Regions from separate parts of the Homo sapiens genome. Here regions 2, 3 and 4 are each linked to region 1. The links come from fine-mapping of genetic effects on gene expression. A gene starts in region 1. Each other region holds a variant in brackets. All regions are shown on one strand. Distances are between the middles of the regions. Region 1 holds the start of HOXB2 (homeobox B2). Region 2 has its middle 16 kb from the start of HOXB1. Region 3 overlaps CDK5RAP3 (CDK5 regulatory subunit associated protein 3). Region 4 has its middle 40 kb from the start of SKAP1.

Region 1 (5,146 bases):
GAAAAATAAGAACCAACTTGGCTTGGTGTTCCCTATCCTTCTCTTTGGAAGATTCCAGGCGCTCAGCTAAAGCAGCCAAAGACGTGGGTAAAATATCCGTGCTGTTAAATTCACAGCAGGACAGGGGGGCGGGGGAGGGATGTCTCTGAAAAGGAGGGTTCTCTGGGCCCCTTTTAACACCCAAGTTTTCCGCTGTTTGCTAATCTGGCCATAAAATCTGTCAGTGAGGGTTAGAGAGAGCTGTATTTCCTGCAGGGACAGTCTGCCCGAGTTGCCTGAGATAAGCTCTGGATCCTTCAGCCAGCTACAGAAGCTGTTGCTAAACTTTCAGAGGTGTTCAAGGGGGTGGCCAGAGGGAGAACCCACTCTCAGGCCTCCCTGCATGACTTCCAGACAGCTACTATTTGGATTATTCTATGCCCACCCCCATCCACACCTCTAAATGGCAAAAATTGTTTTCTTTGGAGCCTAGTTGCACACTACTGTCGCTGGCCACTTTGCCCAGGTCAGAGCAGCTCTCTCTGTTCTGAGCCCTCCAGAGCATGCCTCCTCGGTCCCTGCAGCCCCCACCTCCAACTCCCCTTTCTCCATCCTCCTCTCCCCCACCCTCATGCTTCTACTCAGACTTCTCTGTCCTTCTTTTTAAGTACTCACGCAGATGTTACACTGACAGAAAGTTTCTAGTTCCAGCTCCGGGCTCAGTTGCCATTTCTCTGCTAACCAGCCTTCTCCTCCTGGCTGGGCAGCAGAGAGAGAGGAGGGGGAGGGGAGGCCAAAGCCATGGGAGTTCTCCAGGCAAACTTTCCACCCAACTTAGCGCTTTCCCTCTGTCCCCATTTCCCATCTGTTTCCCAGCTCTCCCAGAATCACCCTTCTCTTTTGCACCCCCACCCCCACCCCCAGGCCTTTTTAAGGGATGTGAAATTTTGGCTGTTCGCTCTGCTTTCCCAAAGAGCCAAATTCTTTGATGCAATCGGAGGGAGCTGTCAGGGGGCTAAGATTGATCGCCTCATCTCCTCTCCATCCGTCTGACCCACTTATTTAAAAATCTTCCCCCAGATCGACTTTTCATTTTCTGCTTTGAGGCCTAGTTTCCCACCAATTGCTTGGGGCTCAGAGTCTTGTGCCCTCTCCCCATAGTAAATTACAACACTCTAAACTTCAGACTATCTTGGTCTCCTCAAAATAAAATAAATTTTAAAAACATTTTCCCCCAGCAGCCAGAAATGGAATATCATCTCAGTGGTCATTATTTCCACCCCTACCATCTTCAGGGAATTCTTCCTTGTCAGGGATTCTTTTTTTTTTTTTTTTCTTTTTTCTTTTTTAACTAGCACAATGGCAAAAATGGGAGGGAAAGTCTCTTTGTCCTAGGGGAAAATCTCCCCACCACACTCATGCACACACATAACGCTGATCTGAACTTTGAGAGTGCTCTAAGTTAAACCAATGGCTACCTCAGTTCTTGTTCATGTCCCTGGATATGGATACAGATACAAGCTTGAGGCTTGAGTGGGTACATGCACATCTTAGACTCTGCCTGTTTTTGGGGGATGTCACAGAGAAGCATGGAAGCCTGAAAGTGAGGAAAGCAGGGGTACATAAGGGGCAGAGGCAGTGCTGCAAACACTGGGCAGAGAAGAGAACCCAGACCATACAGCGATGGAGGCCAGAGGCCCAAAAATGCCCCTTATGCTCCATCTCACTCCTATGTGTCTGCCTGGGAGTTCCTGTCCATTTCCCAAGATTTAACTGTTGTTTTTGGAGGGTAACAGGGATAGTGGTGTGATGATTGTAAATCTCTTTCTTATTTTCACCTTAATACTGACCTTTTTCAAAGAGTGGAAGCCTCTTTCGACTCCCTCTTCCTCCAACGCGGAGATCCTCACTCATCTTTTCCTGGGGAAGGGGAGAAGGGAAGGGGATGCTGCTGGCCACGTAAAGAAGGCCTTAATTTACTCTATTAAAATACTTGGAAAAGAGGAAGGTTTCTCCCTTAGAGTCTCTTCTTTTCCAGGCTTCTGAAACCTTCTAACCTTCGAAGGGGATGAGGAAAAGGTTCCTCTAGCTTTTCTGGAGAAACGGAGGCATTGGGGAGAGAGCATGTGAGGCACTGGTGTAGGAATGGGGGCTCATGGTGTCCTGGTCGTGGTCCTCTGGTGTTTTTGAATCAATTAAACCAAATAATGCTCTCTGTTTTCCACCAGGCCCAGACGAGCGATTGGCGGAGGCCGGTCCCGTGACCACGAATTCCCTGTAATTTCGCTGGAGTCCTGGGTTTAATAGAGAGAGTCCCCATACGCTTGTATTTATCAGCAATATACAATTATAAAGGCCCAAAATTAAAAAAAAGAGAGACCGAAATCTCCCCCTCCCAAAATCGCTCCATTACATAAATCGGGGGGGGTGCAGGAGGGGGGTCCCTTCCGATCCTCCCTCCTGACGCCCCCCCCAGCAGCCCCCTCCCCCACCATTGAAAGCCATGAATTTTGAATTTGAGAGGGAGATTGGGTTTATAAACAGCCAGCCGTCGCTCGCCGAGTGTCTGACTTCCTTCCCCGCTGTCTTGGAGACATTTCAAACTTCATCAATCAAGGAGTCGACATTAATTCCTCCTCCTCCTCCTTTCGAGCAAACCTTCCCCAGCCTCCAGCCCGGCGCCTCCACCCTTCAGAGACCCAGGAGCCAAAAGCGAGCCGAAGATGGGCCTGCTCTGCCGCCGCCACCGCCGCCGCCACTCCCCGCTGCCCCCCCGGCCCCCGAGTTCCCTTGGATGAAAGAGAAGAAATCCGCCAAGAAACCCAGCCAATCCGCCACGTCTCCTTCTCCGGCCGCCTCCGCCGTTCCGGCCTCCGGGGTCGGATCGCCTGCAGGTCGGTAAGCGTGGTGGGGGTGGGGTGAGGGGCAGCTAGAAGAGGGGGAGAAAAAGCAGTGGAAGGAGGTTTAAAAAAAATGGTGGCGAGCCTGTTGGGGTTCCTTACCCCCTCCATTCCTGGGATGGGGAAGTAGAATATCCCACTGGGGTTCAGGCCTGGCCGCTAACAGCGTCTTTTTTTTTTTCTGTCTCTCTCTCTCTTTCTCTCCCTATGGCTGATTTTGGAAGCTGGTTGGGGAAACGCCTTTTTTTCTGCTAGAAGAAAATGATTTGATTGAGGTTTTCACCCGTATCTGTGTAGGGGAATGAGTATGTTGTTGCTGGGATAGACCCTAGAAGCAGAAAAGATTCGGTCCTTTCTGCCCCAACTCTAGGAGAAGAGGAAGAATTCAGAGCTAGGGAGGAAGAGGGGTGAAGAACAATCTTTCTGACCCTCGCTCCGGTTGAGTTGGAAAGTTCCGAATTGAGGGGTCCACTGGGAGGGCTTGGGAGGGGGATCTGAGGTTCCGGCGCCGAAGGGAGCCGCTCTCCGCCCCCTGCGTGGCCCGTGGGCGGCTCTGAATGCTTTGCCCTGACCCGGGCCGGGGCTGTAGACTAGAGAGGGAGAGAAGAAAACCCAAAAGCAGTAAAGCGAGCGGCTTTGGGGTGGGGGCGGGGGTGGGGTGGCGAGGAAGGGGAGAGGTGATACTGGTTTTGGAGGATGGGGTAGTCCGAACTGAGGTTGGGCTGAGTACACGGCCCGCTATGACGCCGAGCCTGTTTTCCCTGCAGATGGCCTGGGACTGCCGGAGGCTGGTGGCGGCGGGGCGCGCAGGCTGCGCACGGCTTACACCAACACGCAGCTGCTGGAACTGGAGAAGGAATTCCACTTTAATAAGTACCTGTGCCGGCCACGCCGCGTCGAGATCGCGGCCTTGCTGGACCTCACCGAAAGGCAGGTCAAAGTCTGGTTTCAGAACCGGCGCATGAAGCACAAGCGGCAGACGCAGCACCGAGAGCCGCCGGATGGGGAGCCTGCCTGCCCGGGAGCCCTGGAGGACATCTGCGACCCTGCCGAGGAACCCGCGGCCAGCCCGGGCGGCCCCTCCGCCTCGCGGGCGGCGTGGGAAGCCTGCTGTCACCCGCCGGAGGTGGTGCCGGGGGCCTTAAGCGCGGACCCCCGGCCTTTAGCCGTTCGCTTAGAGGGCGCAGGCGCGTCGAGTCCCGGCTGCGCGCTGCGCGGGGCCGGCGGGCTGGAGCCCGGGCCATTGCCAGAAGACGTCTTCTCGGGGCGCCAGGATTCACCTTTCCTTCCCGACCTCAACTTCTTCGCGGCCGACTCCTGTCTCCAGCTATCCGGAGGCCTCTCCCCTAGCCTACAGGGTTCTCTCGACAGCCCGGTCCCTTTTTCCGAGGAAGAGCTGGATTTTTTCACCAGTACGCTCTGTGCCATCGACCTGCAGTTTCCCTAACCTGTTTCCTCCTCCCGGTCCTTTCGACCCCCGCGCTCCTTGGCCGTCTACTGGAAAAATCGAGCCTCTCCCACCCTCAGTCGCATAGACTTATGTGTTTTGCTAAAATTCAGGTATTACTGAATTAGCGTTTAATCCACTCCCTTTCTTCTTCTTCTAAAATATTGGGCACTCGGTTATCTTTTAAAATTCACACAGAAAAATTCCGTTTGGTAGACTCCTTCCAATGAAATCTCAGGAATAATTAAACTCTAGGGGGACTTTCTTAAAAATAACTAGAGGGACCTATTTTCCTCTTTTTTATGTTTTAGACTGTAGATTATTTATTAAAATTCTTTAATAATAGGAAAAGGGGAAAGTATTTATTGTACATTATTTTCATAGATTAAATAAATGTCTTTATAATACCAAAACGAGTGTTTGTGTTGGGACCTAAACTCTTTCCCCGCGGCCCCAAGGCCGGTCCTCACCCCTCCAGGACCTGTGCGAAGTTGATTAGGTTCAGCGGCCCATATGGCAGCAAAGCCTCCAGGGCCGGCGAAGTCCGGGTGGTACAAAGGTGACCCGATTGATGGCCGCTTCGCCCACGGCTCCGGCAAAAGTCGGGAGTTTGCAGGAAGCTGGGTCACCTCCCCGCCCCTCAGCAGAGGGTCTTTGGTCCTGAGCGGGTGGTTCTGGGGCCTCTGCTTGGAAATAGAGATGGGCAGGTCGAGGGAGAGAGTGTACAGCGAACAGAGGAGGGTGAAAGGAGAGGAAGCCTGTGGACAGTCTTCAGGGTCGTGGCGGGGGCAGAAGTTTACTGGAATTGGGAACAATCCAA
Region 2 (5,146 bases), 30 kb after region 1:
GAAATAACTCAGATTCTTCTCTTGGGTCATGTGGAAACCTAGAGGAGCCCTCTTCCATCCTCTCCTTTCAATTGAGGCAGGCTTTAAATCTCAGCTGGAGGCTGGTTGCAGTGGCTCACACCTGTAAACCCAACACTTTTGGAAGCCAAGGTGGGAGGACCCCTTGAACCCAGGAGCTCAAGACCAGCCTGAGCAACATAGGGAGACTGTCTCTATAAAAAAATGAACAAAATTAGCCAGGCATGGTAGTGCATACCTGTAGCTACTCAGGAGGCTGATGTGGAAGATCGCTTGAGCCCAGGAGGCAGTCTGCAGTGAGCCAAGATAGCGCCACTGCACTCCAGCCTGGGCAACAGAGTGAGACCCTGTCTCAAAAAACAAGAAGACTGAGATGGTGGGTTTTTGGTTTTTTGTTTGTTTTCTTTTTTTTTTTTTTTTTTGAGACGGAGTCTCGCTCTGTCACTCAGGCTGGAGTGCAGTGGTACAATCTCAGCTCACTGCAACCTCCACCTCCTGGATTCAAGCAATTCTCCCTGCCTCAGCCTCCCAAGTAGCTGAGATTACAGGCACCCGCCACCATGCCTGGCTAATTTTTGTATTTCTTAGTAGAGACGGGGTTTCTTCATGTTGGCCAGGCTGGTCTCGAACTCCTGACCTCAAGTGATCTGCCTTCCTCAGCCTCCCAAAGTGCTGGGATTATAAGCATGAGCCACTGTGCCTGGCAGAGATCACTATTTATAAGGAAGACTCCCATAATGTTAGGCTGCTGTAAATGATAGAATGGTTCTTTATATGGAATGGGAGTTTGCCTTCTTGGCACTTACACCCATTGATTCTACTTCTTTGTTGCCCTCTGGAGCCAACACAATAACTCTTAACTCCTTTTCCCTACGCTACCTCTCCAAATATTTGAAGACAGCTGTCCTGTGTGCCCATAGGTCTTTCCCTCTGTTGAGCAATATACATTCTCAATTTCTTCATTTGTTCCTCCTGAGACCTGATTTCCAGATCTTTCCTCACTCTGTTCTTCCTTCCTTAGTTAATATATTCTATAAAATGAGGTATCCAGAACTGAATAGAAAATATTGTATAATCAGATAAATTCTAATACAGTGAGAATACTATATCCCTTGAGCTAGCACTGTGTTTCTATTGACATAAGCAGGATAGCCGGGGCAGGGAAGGACTATGGGGCAGGCTGGGAGTGAGAAATGAGAGGAATTCTCTTTCTCTTGCAAATTGTGTCCATCTACTTGAGCTCTGGGGCTGCATCAGTCACTGATACCTTAATCCATACAAATCTCCAAGCTCAGAAAGGGAGCTGCCACATCAGCAGCCATTTGTGGCAAGCAAACATTTGCCGAGTAGAATCTGTAATTTATGAGAAGGGAAAGGAGCATTAGTGCAGAGAAACAATGTGGACAGGTGAGAAGGAGAGGCCCTGTTATCTCAAGGGAAGGAAGTGCAGATGACCTAGGCTAGGGAAGCTAACTATTTCCACTCCTCTTTTCCATTGCTGTTCAGGTAATTCCTTCATTCCTCCCTCCCTCCCTTCCTCCCTCCTTCTCTCTCTTCCTCCCTCCCTCCTTTCCTCCCTCCTTCTCTCTCTTCCTCCCTCCCTCCTTTCCTCCCTCCTTCTCTCTCTTCCTCCCTCCCTTCCTTCTTTCCTTCCTTCCTTCCTCCCTCCCTTTTCCTTCCTTCCTTCCTTCCTTTTTCCTTCCTTCTTCCTCTCTTTCTTTCTTTCCTCTCTCTCTCTTTTCTTTTCTTTTCTTTTTTAGAAACAGGGTCTAGCTCTGTTGCCCGTGCTGGGGTATAGTGATGCCATCATAGCTCACTGCAGCCTCAAACTCCTGGGCTCAAGAGATCTCAAGGGATCCTCACAAGTTAGCCTCCCAAGTAGCTGGGACTACAGGTGTGTGTCACCACGCTTGACGAATTTATTTCATTTTTTTTAGAGACAGAGCCTCACTAAGTTGCCCAGGCTGGTCTGGAACTCCTCGGCTCAAGCAATCCTCCAGCCACAGCCTCCTGAGTCACTGGGATTACAGACATGAGCTACGATGCCTGACTATCTATTTCTTTCATGAAACTGTATCCCCACCTTCCTCCTTGGTGGCAGCTGTTACTAGCTTTGTTGTCGTTATTGTTATTGACATTTATCTAGCACTTTGCTATTAGCGCTTATTTCTCACTACATCTCTGGGAGGTTAGTATGATCATTATTCTCACTTTACATATGAAGAGCCCAAGGCTTGGAGAAAATAAGTAATGTATTCCAGATCATATATCTGAAAAGCAACATATAATTTTCTTTTTCTGCCTCTGGTCCTCAAGAATTTATATACATTTACATATGTTGAATATGCAGTACATTTAGGATGATGGCCTCTCTTTCTCCCTACTCCTCAACACTACCCCTAGGTATCAGATCATCAAGCATTGTTTAGCGTCTTAGGTCACTCCCTCCTCTTTTTCCTTTTGGAAAAGAAAAATCAAGCAGACTGCCCAAATAGCCAAGATCATCAGGTTCAGCAAGAGAATACCCCTCTCTGTGTAACCCTTTAAGATGAGAATCACTGCAAATAGAGTCCAAGTCAGACACTGACTCAGATTTTGCGAAAACCTCTAATAGTCCATGGCTTGGTGGTGATGGGTAGTTTTGCTTTAGGGATCTTCCGCTTGGGGTGGTCTTCTCCATGTTTGGAAAGATATTGTTTGAACGTGACTGATCTTGCAGTTGAAGGTTCCAGTTTCTATACCACAGCAAGCCTGGGAAAATGAGAAGGGGGTTATTAAAATGAATTTGAGAAGCGTTTT[C/T]TTTGAGGACATCTCTTTCTAAATCCTTCCAATGGGCATGGAATGCTATGACTATCCAGATAGTGGGAGTCATGATACAGGGAGGAGTAAGAAGTGGGGGCTTTCAGTCCCAGAGTTAGAGACCACAGCATTGCCCAGTTTCCTGCCCTCACATGAATCAGCCTCCCTGCACATCGCTTCCTCCCCCACCTTGTTAAAAACCCCATCATGGTAGATATATGGGTCAGAGCTTTGAAGACTTTGGGGAATAAGCAGATCAAAAGTCCAAATGTCCAACTCCTTTCACCTGTGAATCTCCCATCATTGGACTGCAGAGCCAGCTGCAAGGCAGATGGAAGGCAGAAACCTGGAGGCTACAAGCAGCTTCCCATCCTATAACTCAGCCCAGGTCCTGGGGAACCTGTAGAGGGTCCTGACAGCAGAATTAACATGATGGGGAGAGGCAGGCAGAGGAGAGGAAAGGGACACAGAGCCAGATTAGGGGCAGTAGATAACTTGGGTCTGGCATCTGCTCTTCTGCTTTATGCAAATGTTGCTTTAACCCCAAAGAAGCCACATTCTGAGACTAGCTTGTTGTTTATTTAAAAATATGCAGACTTTGCAGCCCATCTGGAAAGCTCTGAGGGGCTCCTGATACAGGCATCTCGTCATATCCCAGCAGCAGGGCAGTAAATCGAGAACATGCAGAAACATCAAAAAAGCCCTTCCTTGATCAGATGTTGTAAAGAATTTGCCAAGTCTGCAGATAAGGAGATCACTGGAGTGCCTGTGTGAGATCCTCAGAGAAAGCCCATTTATTTTCTCCTTCCCATTACCTTCTGCTCTCTAGATGAGCAAGGCATGCACAAGAAGGGGGAGGTGGGTGAGCCACTGGTAGCGAGGCCACGCGGTCCACATCACATATGGCCCATCCTCACCAAGTGCTCTGAGGGAACAGTGTGGGAGGATCTTGCCTTTCCTTATCAGTTTTGAAATACAAGGCACAGAGCCTCAGTGGCTGCCAAGGTAAAAGGCTATCACAGAGCAAATACCTGAATAGGAGAGACATATTTGAGAAAGAACAGATAACATTTTCAACATATTTAGAGATCCTAGCTCTCGTCTAGCTTCAGTATGTCTTTACCTGAGCTTTTACCAGCAAGAGGTGTCAAACAGATTAAATAGTTTATGGGAAGGCAGGATCCAGGCACCTTACAAGTTCTTTTTTCATATGTTGGAGCCGGCCTGGAGACAACCAGCTGAAATAATGGGTCTTGGTAATTTTCACAAGCTAAGGGACTCCAAATCTGCAATATTTCACTTACTTTGCAGATAGTCACTCAGCCCCCTGACCAAGGGGAATATCAATTTTTGCCGAGAATCAGTAAAAATCATTAAACGACAGTGAGAGTATAAGGGGGTGGGGTGGGATTTACAGCTTCTTTTTATAAGACCAAGTTAAAGCCTCATGAGTCTCCTGCACTTTCACTTTCACCTCTCCCATCATCAGCCCTGATTGGTAGCTACAGAAATGGAGGCCCACGGAATTTCAATAAGCTGGAGGCGATATCAGAGGAAACCGAGAGCTCTCCACACATGACAAGCTTTCAGGGAGTGTCATGGCGAGAGAGCCAAGATAAGCCCATTAAAGGGCAGAGTGGGCAGGTAGGACGTACTGTGTGGGGTCAAAAAATCTGAAATCTACAATGAGGAAGAGACCAATTCCAGGTTGTATCTGCAAATCTTAAAATGCAAGGATACCTGGGAGGAGAGAAAATTCTAAGAACGAAAAGATATTGGGTTTTAGGAGACAGGCTCTGAAAATGGGAAGAAGAAGATAAACAGAAGGTTGGTGCTTAAGTAACTCTCTCCTTTAAGAACTGTGACCCATGTTCCTAATGTTTCTGGCTTTTCATATTTCCTTGAGATTCAGTCTTACTTGGTTACTTGTCCCTCTAAAACATGGCACTCTTGGCCAGGCGTGGTGGCTCACACCTGTAATCTTTGGGAGGCTGAGGCAGGTGTATCCCCTGAGGTCAGGAGTTCAAGACCAGCCTGGTCAACATGGTGAACTCCTGTCTCTACTAAAAATACAAAAATTAGCCCGGTGTGGTGGCATGCGCCTGTAATCCCAGCTACTTGGGAGGCTAAGGCAGGAGAATCACTTGAACCTGGGAGGCAGAAGATGCAGTGAGTCGAGATTGTGCCACAGCACCCCAGCCTGGGAGACAGAGACTCTGTCTCAAAACAAAAACAAAACAGAACAACAACAAAAGTGGCACTCTTTCTATCTTGATTTTTAATAAGTCCTTTCTGTTCTTTTCTTTTTTTTTTTGAGTTGGAGTTTCAC
Region 3 (5,146 bases), 560 kb after region 1:
TCTGAATGATGCAGCTTGTTCCCTGCTCTGAACTGGCAATAGGAAAGGAATTCTAGATGTGCCAGACTCCCCATGATACTGGCAGGCCCTCAGAGGGGCACAGGGGGTGGACCGCTGGGGCCCAGATGAACGAGCCTTAGCACTCCACTTATCCCATGTTCACAGTCAGCCACTGCAGGCTGCAGTGCAAAGGGATCCTACTTTTGTGGTCTATAAAGAGAACCACACCGGAGAGGACACGGTAGAACTGACGCAGGGAGAGAGGCAATGTTTGGGCAGAGAGGCAGTGAGTGGGGCTGAGCCATGGCTGGATTTAGCAAGCAGAGAATTTTGGAAAGGTGACTCGCTGCTTCCTTATCTGAAGCCGGGTGAGGAGTCTTAGCCAAGTAGTGAGAGGCGTTGCCTTAAATCCTCTCTGGAAAGAGGTGGGATAAAAGTCAACACAAAAGTATAGTGTGCTCTTGGCAGCATAATTCACATCAAACTAAGGATTCTGAGGGTGTAATCTTGGTGCACCGCTTCCCTCTTTCCCTGAAAGAGGGAAGTTTCAACCTGACTGCTTGAAACTTGGTCTCAAGCTCCCCTAAAGCCCCTCACCTCTCCTTTCCAAGAAGACAAGTTAGGCCAGGATGGAGAGTCCTCATCATGGTTCCCCAAACCAAAAATAAGAGCTCACACATGTCCACCAAGAGCCTCCTCCGCACCAGGCAGCGTTCTAAGAGCTCTGCATATCTTAACTCATTCTGTCCCTACAACGACTTCTGAGGGCATTCTGAGATACACAAGCAGGAACCCAAATACAACCAGTGAAGCTCAGGGAAGCTGGAGGCAGACCTGAAAGACACAGAGCTGCTCTTGCCAGGGAGAACCAGCCGGGTGGATCCCTTCAGTGCCTTCAGCATGGCCAGGAGGGCTGGACTCAGGAAGCAGGCGGCGGTAAAGGAAAGGGAGGCTAAAGGTTCTGGAGAACAAACCCAATGTTATCGAGTTAAAGGCTTTCATGAAACCACTTGCCTCAGCCTGGGGATCAGGGTGGGCCTTGATGTCACCTGTTAAGCAGTCACCTAGTATCTCTGATCCAGAGCAGTGGCCTAACCACACTGCTTACCAAGGGGGCCAAAATCAGCTGAGAAAACTCTATCTAAACCCACTTCCCTTCCTGGGAAAATAGCCAAACCTCAGTGAGCACTGCTTCCCCTCGCTGACCTTAGGCAGGGCTGGGAAAGCAGGTCAGGTGCTCATCTGCAAGCGCAGGGGCAGAAGCTTTGGAGGCCTGAACCCGGTCTGCCATGGTCACCTGGTCCACGGGGTTTCTCCCTGAAGCTCCATTGCTGTAAGCAATGGAGTCTGCGTAACAGCTGGTGACTGGGCAAAGGACATTAGAGTGGGCAAGGGTAGTATGCCTCAGTGAACTGACTGCTACTGCAAGAGGCTGGCCAGATGGCCAACGGAGCCAGCAGCTGAACAGGTGGGGCAGGAGCTAGAAGGCAATCTCCCAGAGGGAGAGGGACCAAGAGCAGCAGGCAGTTCCCTAAGCCAAGAGCATCCCTCCTGAGTGTTGAGGCCAGAGTGCAGTCCACTTACCTCCTCTATACCCTGCTAGTCTGCGGAGTCTTACCTCCATGTTCAACACCAATATTTTTCCAATTCCCGGACTTCTCATTTCAGCCCCTGATCCCCCAGAAAGAGGTGACCAGGCAAAGATTGGGGGGAAGTGGTGGGTTGACATTAATTGATAGGAACGGCTTCGAGCAGTTCATGCTGCCTTATCTCTCTCTCCTTTGGCTGGAGTCCGCGGGGTCGGTGATTAATAGGCGCCATCACTCACTGTCCAGGACGGCTGAAAGGCAGTGGGGAGGGGGTGGCCCTCCCCAGAACTGAGATAACAAGCAGCAGGAATAATGAGTGGTGTCACTCCACTTTTCATTTTGATGGAAAGTCATTACGGGAGTCAACGCCAGCGACAAAGAGCCATGAATCAACTGCTCTGCTATGAAATTAAAATCGAATTGCCAGCCACCCCCAACCCCTACCCTTCCTGGGAAATGGGGATGGGTAGGTGGCTTGGGAGAGGGCTGCTATCCTGGGGTGGGCTCTATCCGATCACAGAGCGGGCAGTTATGGGCAGGAAGTGGACAGGCAGCCAGGGAAGGTGACAGCTCCTGTCTCCACCTTGTTTATCAGACCCTTCCTCCCCAAACCGCATTTTCCCTCTGCCTGGAGGTAAGCTGTGATTAAAAGGAAAATGCAGCTTTGCTGGCTCCAACAAGGCTGCTGCTTGACCGCTCCCCCAGGGCTTCTGGCCTGAGTCGGGCGGCCTGGGCCTGGTTATGGAAAGGGGCCCACACGTAGCCATCCCAGAGCCCCTTACTGAACCATTTGTAGATGTGGGGTCCTCTTTATCACCAGAAGCAAAGGGGAAAAGTCCTCAACTTGGGGCTCCACAGTGACAGCTGATGGCCTGGGGAGCCCACCTGGATCAGGGAGCCCACCTGGATCAAGAACCCCACGAAAACAGGTGCGAAGCCTCAACTGCAGGCTCAGAGAAGCAGCATAAGGAACTGTCAGTACTGAAGCAAGAGTTTTTTCCTCTTTTATTAAGTCCGCTATACTAACTAGAAGGAGAATCTGTGGTTTTCGCCTG[A/G]TAGACCACAGGGCCAATCACCACAGCTTCTTGTAGAGAACATGGAGAGTGCCAAGATCACCATCAGGTGCCGCTTCCTTCCTGTGGCTTTCCATCTTCCAGTCAGCCTGGTCTTTTGCCTTGAAGGGCCCCAAAACAACAGCCCTGGCTATCATCTTCATCCCAAAAGCGGAGAAGATGGGCAGGCAAGAACACGGAGGGTGTCACAGAGAGGTTCCCATCAGGTTCACAGGGCGCCCGCTGTACCTCTTGGAGATGTCAGCTTCAATCTGAAAGAGTGATACCAAGTGGGCAGAAGCAGGGGTGCTCAGGGCCTCATTTTGCACAGACTGGGAGTCCTCCCACTGGCAGGCCTCCCTTTCCCATCTCACCAGCTTCTGCAGCTCCTTGGTCTTCTCCAGTAGCAGGTCCAGCTTAGGCTCCAGAGCCGCCTGCTCCTCAAGTGCCTCCTGCTGCTTCTGCACCATCAGCTCTTTCTTCAAAGCCAGCAGCTGGGACTGCTTCAGCTTTTGCTGGAGGAATTCAGTCACTCGGTCCACATACCTGTGCGGGGCACTCAGGTGAGTGCTGGGTTAGCTGTGCATCCTGAGCATTCCCATTCAGCTGCTGGGGAGGTGAGAGGCTCGGGAAACCAAACCCCCAACTGGCCGCTTACCCTCACATCCTTAAACCCTTTCCTTTTAAGGAAAACCCACTCCCAGTTCCCCTGTCCTACTCAGGAAGCAAGCAGATTCTTCCTGTATATGTGAAACCTCCCCCTCTTGTCCCAAAGAGAACCCCTATCCCCAGTGGATGGCAATGGCCAGGAGGCAGGGATGGGGTTTAAGGGGTCATGGAACAAGAGGAGGAATACAAGGAGGCAGAGCTGCTCAAGATGGCAGAGCCTTGCATCAAGGGGAAGCCAGACCTTGGTGAGGCCAGGATCATAAACAGGTGTTGCAGCTGAAGACTGGTAAGCTTGCCAATCAGATCCTCCAGCACTGACACCATGGTAACCATCTTCTCTTTGGTCTGGCCCTGCAGGATGGCTGGAGCCAGCTGGAACTGGCTCACAGACAGGACATCTGCCTCCTCACTCAACTCCACTGCTCTCTGGGCTAAGAAGATCTCAAGCTGAGGACAGAAGAAAGATTGGTTCAGGCTGTACATGATGGCTCACACTTGCAATTCCAGCACTGTGGGAGGCCAAGGCAGGAGGATCGCTTGAGGCCAGGAGTTCAAGACCAGCCTGGGAAACGATGAGACCCTGTCTCTACAGAAATGTTTAAAATTAGCCAAACATGGTGGTGTATGCCTGTAGTCCCAGCTACTCAGGAGGCTGAGGCGGGAGGATCACTTGAGCCCAGGAGTTTGAGGTTATAGTGAGCTATGATTGCTGCACTGCACTCCAGACTGGGCGACAGAGAAACTCTTTTTAAAAAAAAAGGAAGAAAGAAAAAAAGAAGATAAATTGGTTCAAACTGAGAGAAGAACTCAGAATCTAAGCCCTCGGACTACTCGAAATGCAAAAATGAGACATGAGGGCTAGACTCTGGGTAAGGAGTTTCCTCTGAACACTGTAAGCGCTAGGAGAGACTACTGTCACCCTTCAGTCCCCACCTCCTATCTCATCCTAACCCCAGACCTCTGTCCTTTCTCCCCAGCCTGGGATCAGATAACTGAGAATACAGAGACTCAAAGGGTTCTCTCTGCCCAGGGAAGGTATTTATTTTGTCTCCATGGGAGGAATGAGATTCAGGGAACAGAAATACATGTTTGAGAAGCACTGGATTAAGGCAAGGCTGAAAAGAATACAAGAGCCAGCCATATTAACTTATCAATCCTATTCTGCCGTTAAAACTTCACAGATATCTTTTGTCCTCTCCCCTTGAGGCTGGGAGGAGCCTCTGGGCAGAAAGAGGAGAGAACTGGGTGAGGACAGAACTTTCAGGAGGCTCTCCGAACCAGCAGGCTACTGGGAAGGGAGCAGATACAGAGATTAACAAAGACAGGACCCCGTCCTCCCAGCCTTACAACAAAGGTCCAAGAACGCTGGCTCCTTACGCTGGGCTGCTCAACACCTTAGCCACAGGGATCGTCCTTAAACACAAATGAGATCATGTTCCTAACCTGCTCGAAACCTCCAACAGCTTCCCAGTTCACTCAGAGGCAAACCAAGGTTCAGACGCTACATCTCTGAGCTCTTCTACTCCCCACCAGCTCTCTCTCCTCAGCCACACCAGCCTCCATGTTGCTGGTCAACTGTGCAAGGTCTGCTCCCACCTCGGGACCTCTGCACTTGCTCTCTCTGCCTGGGAAGCCCTTCTGCCAGACATCTGCATGGTTCTCTCTGCACCGCCTGCAGTCTTGATTACAGGTCACCTTCTCAATGAGGCCTTCCCTGACCACCAGATACAAAACCATAGCCCTTTCCAACATCCTCGTCATCCTCCCCTACTTTCTCTTTCTCCGTGGCATTTGGTGCCATCTAGCATCCTGCATATTTTATTTATTTATCTTCTT
Region 4 (5,146 bases), 74 kb after region 1:
TTGGAATGTGGTCCTGGGCAGACTCAGAATTGCTGTTTAAAATGTTTAATTGAGCAGATGGTTTGGAATGTGAGGACTGAATACCCCCTTTTGAAAGCCAAGAGCTACGGGAGTCTATCAGGCATGGGATGGGGGAAGAGGAGAAAACGAAGGAAAGACATCATTCCAAATAGCCACAGGTGGGAAGCCAGAGTGGGGAGGAGGGGTGGCCTCACTTTGTCACACCACTGACCTGAATCACAGGGCAGGGCCGGAAGGGAATGCCAGTTGCAAATCTTGCCACCTCATCTCACAGCTCACCAAATATTACGGCTTCACACATAAAAACCAGAGTGCTAAGCTGCCAGGAGTGTTAAACTCAAGTAGCTGTGACCAGAAGCAGGCAGGCTCTGGGGACAGGAGTGGGGAGGCTGTCACAGCAGGGCCAGCAGCTCCCATTGGACCCTCCCAGCTCTTAGGTAGCAACTGGAACTGAGCAGGAAATGTAGCTGTTGCCCTGAGAGCCACCTCTGCTGCTCGCCTCTCCATGGTGACAGCATTTAGGGGAGTCCTGCACCTCCTTAGCAGGAGCTGGGCTGCCTCTGAGCAGAAAATAAATGCTTTCAAGCCCCATAAATCAATGAAAATTAGCGGGAGTCAAGGTAAAAATCCATCCTCCACCACTTGGATGTTTGAGCCAAGGTTCTTCTCGGTGATTTAGAGCCATGTAATTAGAGTGATCCACTCTCAGTTGCTGTTGTTGTTTTTTCTTCCTCCCTTCTCTTTCCAGACAAAGTCCTCTCCTATGAGGCAGGTTCCCACTGGCCTCTAGCTCCTCTGGCTAGAAACAGGTGTGTGCACCTGTCAGCTTGGCACCTTGATGGATCTCTGTGCTATCTTGGTTCGCCTCCTCCCTGCCTGCCCCTAATGAACAGTCCGCCCCAGGCTAGGTATGAGATGTGGGTGGGGAGACACACCATCCTTCATAGTCGCCCTCTATCCTCCGCAGAAGTAGAGAGGTGTGGCTGTTAATCCTCAGGTGAAATGTGGCCCCATCCCAGAGGTGGAGGAGGGGGCTGGAGTAAAGAGAGCCTCTGACCTCTGAACTGGGGAGAAGATTGATAGTGGCATGAAGGTTTCCCAGCCTTGCGACCCCTGCCGGATTAGGAACATAATCCAGCAGTTGACAGACATGTGAGGTGGGATTCAGAGGAGTTAGTTGCCTGGATTTACATTTTAAAAAGGCCCCAAGGCCCAGAGGGACAACATGACATGAGGAAATGCAGATAGAATTTAGAGTCCCAGAGACAAAGATTCAAATCCCATCTCCATCATTTCTTATCCGTATGACCATGAACAAATTTCATCAGCTCTTTGAGCCTCAGTTTCCACAATTTAATTTTACTTAAAATTAAAATATTGATGCTATCTCACACAGAATTCTAGTGAAGATTAGATGAAGTAATCAATGTAAAGTTCTAGCATATAATGCCTGGAACATAGCATTTTTTCCCAACGCGCTACCTTTCTGCCTCTCAAATCTTCTCCTTGCTCGAGGCTGTACAACAAGCTAGGAAAGGAATTACAACCCTAACCCAGCTCCTGACATCTTGCTCAGGAAGTGACCTATGTGGGGCTCTCAATCTAGATGCTCACTGAATGGCAGAGAAAACAAAATTAGTAGTTTCCTTCAGGAGGCCAACTAGAACATGCCGCCTCTGAAGAGTGAGGAAGCACGACCAGCATGCTGTGAGGTACCTTGCCAGGTTCAATTCCTGCCTCAGTCTTTTTTTTTTTTTTTTTTTTTTTTTTTGAGACAGGGTCTCTTATGCTTTGTCACCCAGGCTGGAGTGCGGTGGTGTGACCATGGCTCACCACAGCCTCAACCTCTCAGGCTCAAGTGATCCACCCACCTTAGCCTCCCAAGTAGCTGGGAGAAACACCCCCAGCTAATTTTAAAAATATTTTGTTGAGACAAGATCTCACTATGTTCCCCGGGCTGGTCTTGAACTCCTGGGCTCAAGAGATCCTCCTGCCTCAGCCTCTCAAAGTGCTGGAATTACAGGCATGAGTCACCACGCTCAGCCCCTCAGCCACTTTTAAGTTATGACCCTGAGCAATTCCCTAAGCTTCGGTATCTCCCAATGTAAAGTGGTTATAATTGTAATTCTTGCCACAGGGTGGCTCTGAGATTCAAAGGAAATAGTGAATGGGAATACCCTTTGCAAATGATTCCGTATGTATAATAAAGTAACAACTTTACTAACAGAATTTCTCTTAGGAAGGGAATTCTGCTTAGAAGAATGCCTTGATGTGCTTAACACATGGCAGATGTGCTCACAACTTCAGAGAAGGGAGAATATTGCTCTGCATGAGAGAGAGAAGAGAAAAAAGAGGAGGAGGAGCAAGGCACCAACGGGATGGAGAGAGGCCAGGTGTGGAGAAGGGAGAAGTGAAACTCCATACCGTTGGATTGACAAATGGGTGTTTAACAACAATGATGCCCATTGTGCCCCTTCAAGTTGTCTGTGCTGCATAATGTAAGCTCTCTCTTTCTCCCCTACAAAATCTTTGAGTATATCTATTAAACTCACAATTTTTAGAACATCAATCACAAAATCTGGTGATTTACACATATTCTTTCATTTATTTCCCCTATAACTTTTCACAGATGAAGATACAGGCTCAGAAAATATGGACAACTTGCTCAAGGTCACACAAGTGACAGCTGTTGGAGGAGGGCTCTGGATACTGTAGTGCGTTG[C/T]CCTTCTGGGCCTCAGTTTTTGAGGTTAAAAAGGTCACTTAACCTCCATGGGTCCCCAGTTTTTCTATATTTAAGAAGTATCTTGGCTGGGCACAGTGGCTGACTCCCGTAATCCCAGCATTTTGGGAGGCTGAAGCAGGTGGATTGCTTGATGCCAGGGGTTCGAGACCAGCCTGGCCAACATGGCAAAACCCCATCTCTATACAAAAATTAGCCGGGCATGGTGGCGTGCGCCTGTAGTCCCAGCTACTCGGGAGGCTAAGGCAGGAGAATTGCCTGAACCCAGGAGACAGAGGGTGCAGTGAGCCAAGATTGTGCCACTGCACTCCAGCCTAGGTGACAGAGCGAGACTCTGTCACAAAAAAAACACAAAAATCTTTATTGCTTCTTTCCTTGGTCACTCAGATACTTGATAGATGAAAGAGGTCATAGATGTAAAGTACTTTCAGAGATTTTAAACAAACAACTGTGAAAGAAAGCTATTTATTAATATAATACACATCTCCCCATGCTAAAAGGTCTACTTAATCCATCCTGTCCTAAGAAGCCAAAGAGAACTAACCTTCACTCCTGTTTAGAGAGAACAGTTTAGTTTGTCCTTTCTAGTCCAGTGCCAAGTCTATTGCACTTTGCTTTCTCACAATAGAAACCAAGCATATGGATCTCCCTTAAAACCACACAAGTCCAAATAACATGATCATCTCAAAGGATTCCCTTTCTCCTGGAAAATATTTAACAAACAGCTTTCCAGAAAAAAAGTTAAGTCCTGATTTGTTGCATTCGTCTATTTCCTTGGTGTAAATAATTCCACCATGCCTGATTTCAACTTTCTTCATGACATCATTGAAAACAGGATTAGGAAGAGATGTGCAGTTATAGTGTTTCTACCACCTAGGTACACCAGACATAAATAACCCTAAAAGGTTAGATAGCAATGAAATTTAGCAAAATAATTAGGAAGTGATGATATTTAGTATCTTTTTTTCTTTTAATATAATTTGGGCCACGTATAGGCACGGTGGCTCACACCTATAATCCCAGTACTTTGGGAGGCTGAGGCGGGAGGATCATTTGAGGTCAGGAGTTCAAGACCAGCCTGGCCAACATGGCAAAACTCCGTCTCTAATAAAAATACAAAAATTAGCCAGGCATTTTGTCACACACCTGTAATCTCAGCTACTTGGGAGGCTGAGGCATGAGAATCGCTTGAACCTGGGAGGTTCAAGGGTGACAGAATGAGACTCAGTCTCAAAAAAACCTATATATATATGTGTGTGTGTGTGTGTGTGCATAAATATATATGTTTGTATATATATACATATAATTTATTGTAACTTTATACCATTTTAGTTTGTTTTCTTTTCTTTTTTTTTGAGACGGAGTTTTGCTCTTATTGCCCAGGCTGGAGTGCAATGGTGTGATCTCAGCTCACTGCAACCTCTGCTTCCTGGGTTCAAGAAACTCTCCTGCCTCAGCCTCCTGAGTAGCTGGGATTATAGGCACCCACCACCATGCCTGGCTGATTTTTGTATTTTTAGTAGTGACAGGGTTTCACCATGATGGCCAGGCTGGTCTCCAACTCCTGACCTCAGGTGATGTGCCTGCCTCGGCCTCTGAAAGTGCTGGGATTACAGGCATGAGCCACAACATCTGGCCAATTTTAGTTCTTTTTAAAAACAATTTATTTTTGCAAAATTCTTGACAGTTTAACAATCAGTGCTCATGAGCAAGAATGTGGCAGCTTCACTTCCCTCCTTGTGACCTGCACTTGCACCTGCACTCAGGCAGGCCGGAGCACAGAAGCTGAGGCATGTTGGAGAAAGTGCCAAGTGCTTCTGTGATATATTTTTCATTTCTAAAAACAAGATTCACGAAGAAATAACATGCTGAATTGAAAAATGGTTATTTCGATCTCAAAGATTCTTTAATTGAAAATACTCATCTAGGTCAATTCCCTAGCCATGAGCAAGAATTCTTTCTGGTTCTGTTCTCCAGGGTACCTTATTGATCACAGTCCTGTTGGAAAACAGATGGCACACTCAAATGGGGTTTGTCTGAGTAAAGTTTAATGCAGGCATATTTACAAAGATATGGGCAGGGTTCAGAGAAACCCATAAGAAATGGTGCGGTTAGCCAGAATAGGGAATAATGACCACTCGAGGCCTAAAGGATTGGGAAGGAGCAGTCCTCACAGTCTGGAGAGAGTTGTAGGAGAGGGTTGGCCCACAGGAGCTGTGGCCTTTAGTTGAGGAACATAGCCACTGTCAACCTGAGGCCCAGCTGGGGGAATAAATATCCTGATGCTACCCTCAGCCTTTTCCAGTGGCTTGCTGCATAAAAAATTATAAATGCATTCTCCTGTTTCCCTATAAAAACTTCAGGTAAAGTCACTATTTTTTTTTC

What was found. PIP is the estimated chance that this variant, and not a neighbour inherited with it, causes the effect. A credible set is the group of variants that fine-mapping cannot tell apart.
Region 2: its variant is the best candidate, but not a certain one, in a credible set for the expression of HOXB2 in whole blood (TOPMed, PIP 0.76).
Region 3: its variant is the best candidate, but not a certain one, in a credible set for the expression of HOXB2 in whole blood (TOPMed, PIP 0.75).
Region 4: its variant is the best candidate, but not a certain one, in a credible set for the expression of HOXB2 in blood mononuclear cells (TOPMed, PIP 0.82).

The regions. Positions count from the first base shown.
Region 1 is chr17:48,542,248-48,547,393 of GRCh38, reverse strand. HOXB2 (homeobox B2) reads left to right here and starts at 2,285. Exons shown (of 2, transcript NM_002145.4): 1 at 2,285-2,873; 2 at 3,647-4,739. The coding sequence starts at 2,483. The coding sequence ends at 4,326. HOXB-AS1 (HOXB cluster antisense RNA 1) reads right to left here and starts at 3,043. Exons shown (of 7, transcript NR_102279.1): 1 at 2,982-3,043; 2 at 2,037-2,273; 3 at 1,830-1,899. RefSeq lists an enhancer at 3,417-4,062 and a silencer at 3,870-4,159.
Region 2 is chr17:48,512,489-48,517,634 of GRCh38, reverse strand. No RefSeq gene overlaps it. Among named protein-coding and RNA genes, the nearest start is that of HOXB1, 16 kb to the left of the region's middle. RefSeq lists enhancers at 597-1,107, 3,385-3,434. The variant C/T (reference allele first, on the strand shown) is at 2,818.
Region 3 is chr17:47,979,204-47,984,349 of GRCh38, reverse strand. It overlaps CDK5RAP3 (CDK5 regulatory subunit associated protein 3), which reads right to left. Exons shown (of 14, transcript NM_176096.3): 12 at 3,552-3,757; 13 at 3,016-3,187; 14 at 2,569-2,913. The coding sequence ends at 2,848. Among named protein-coding and RNA genes, the nearest start is that of CDK5RAP3, 11 kb to the right of the region's middle. The variant A/G (reference allele first, on the strand shown) is at 2,645.
Region 4 is chr17:48,467,852-48,472,997 of GRCh38, reverse strand. No RefSeq gene overlaps it. Among named protein-coding and RNA genes, the nearest start is that of SKAP1, 40 kb to the right of the region's middle. The variant C/T (reference allele first, on the strand shown) is at 2,744.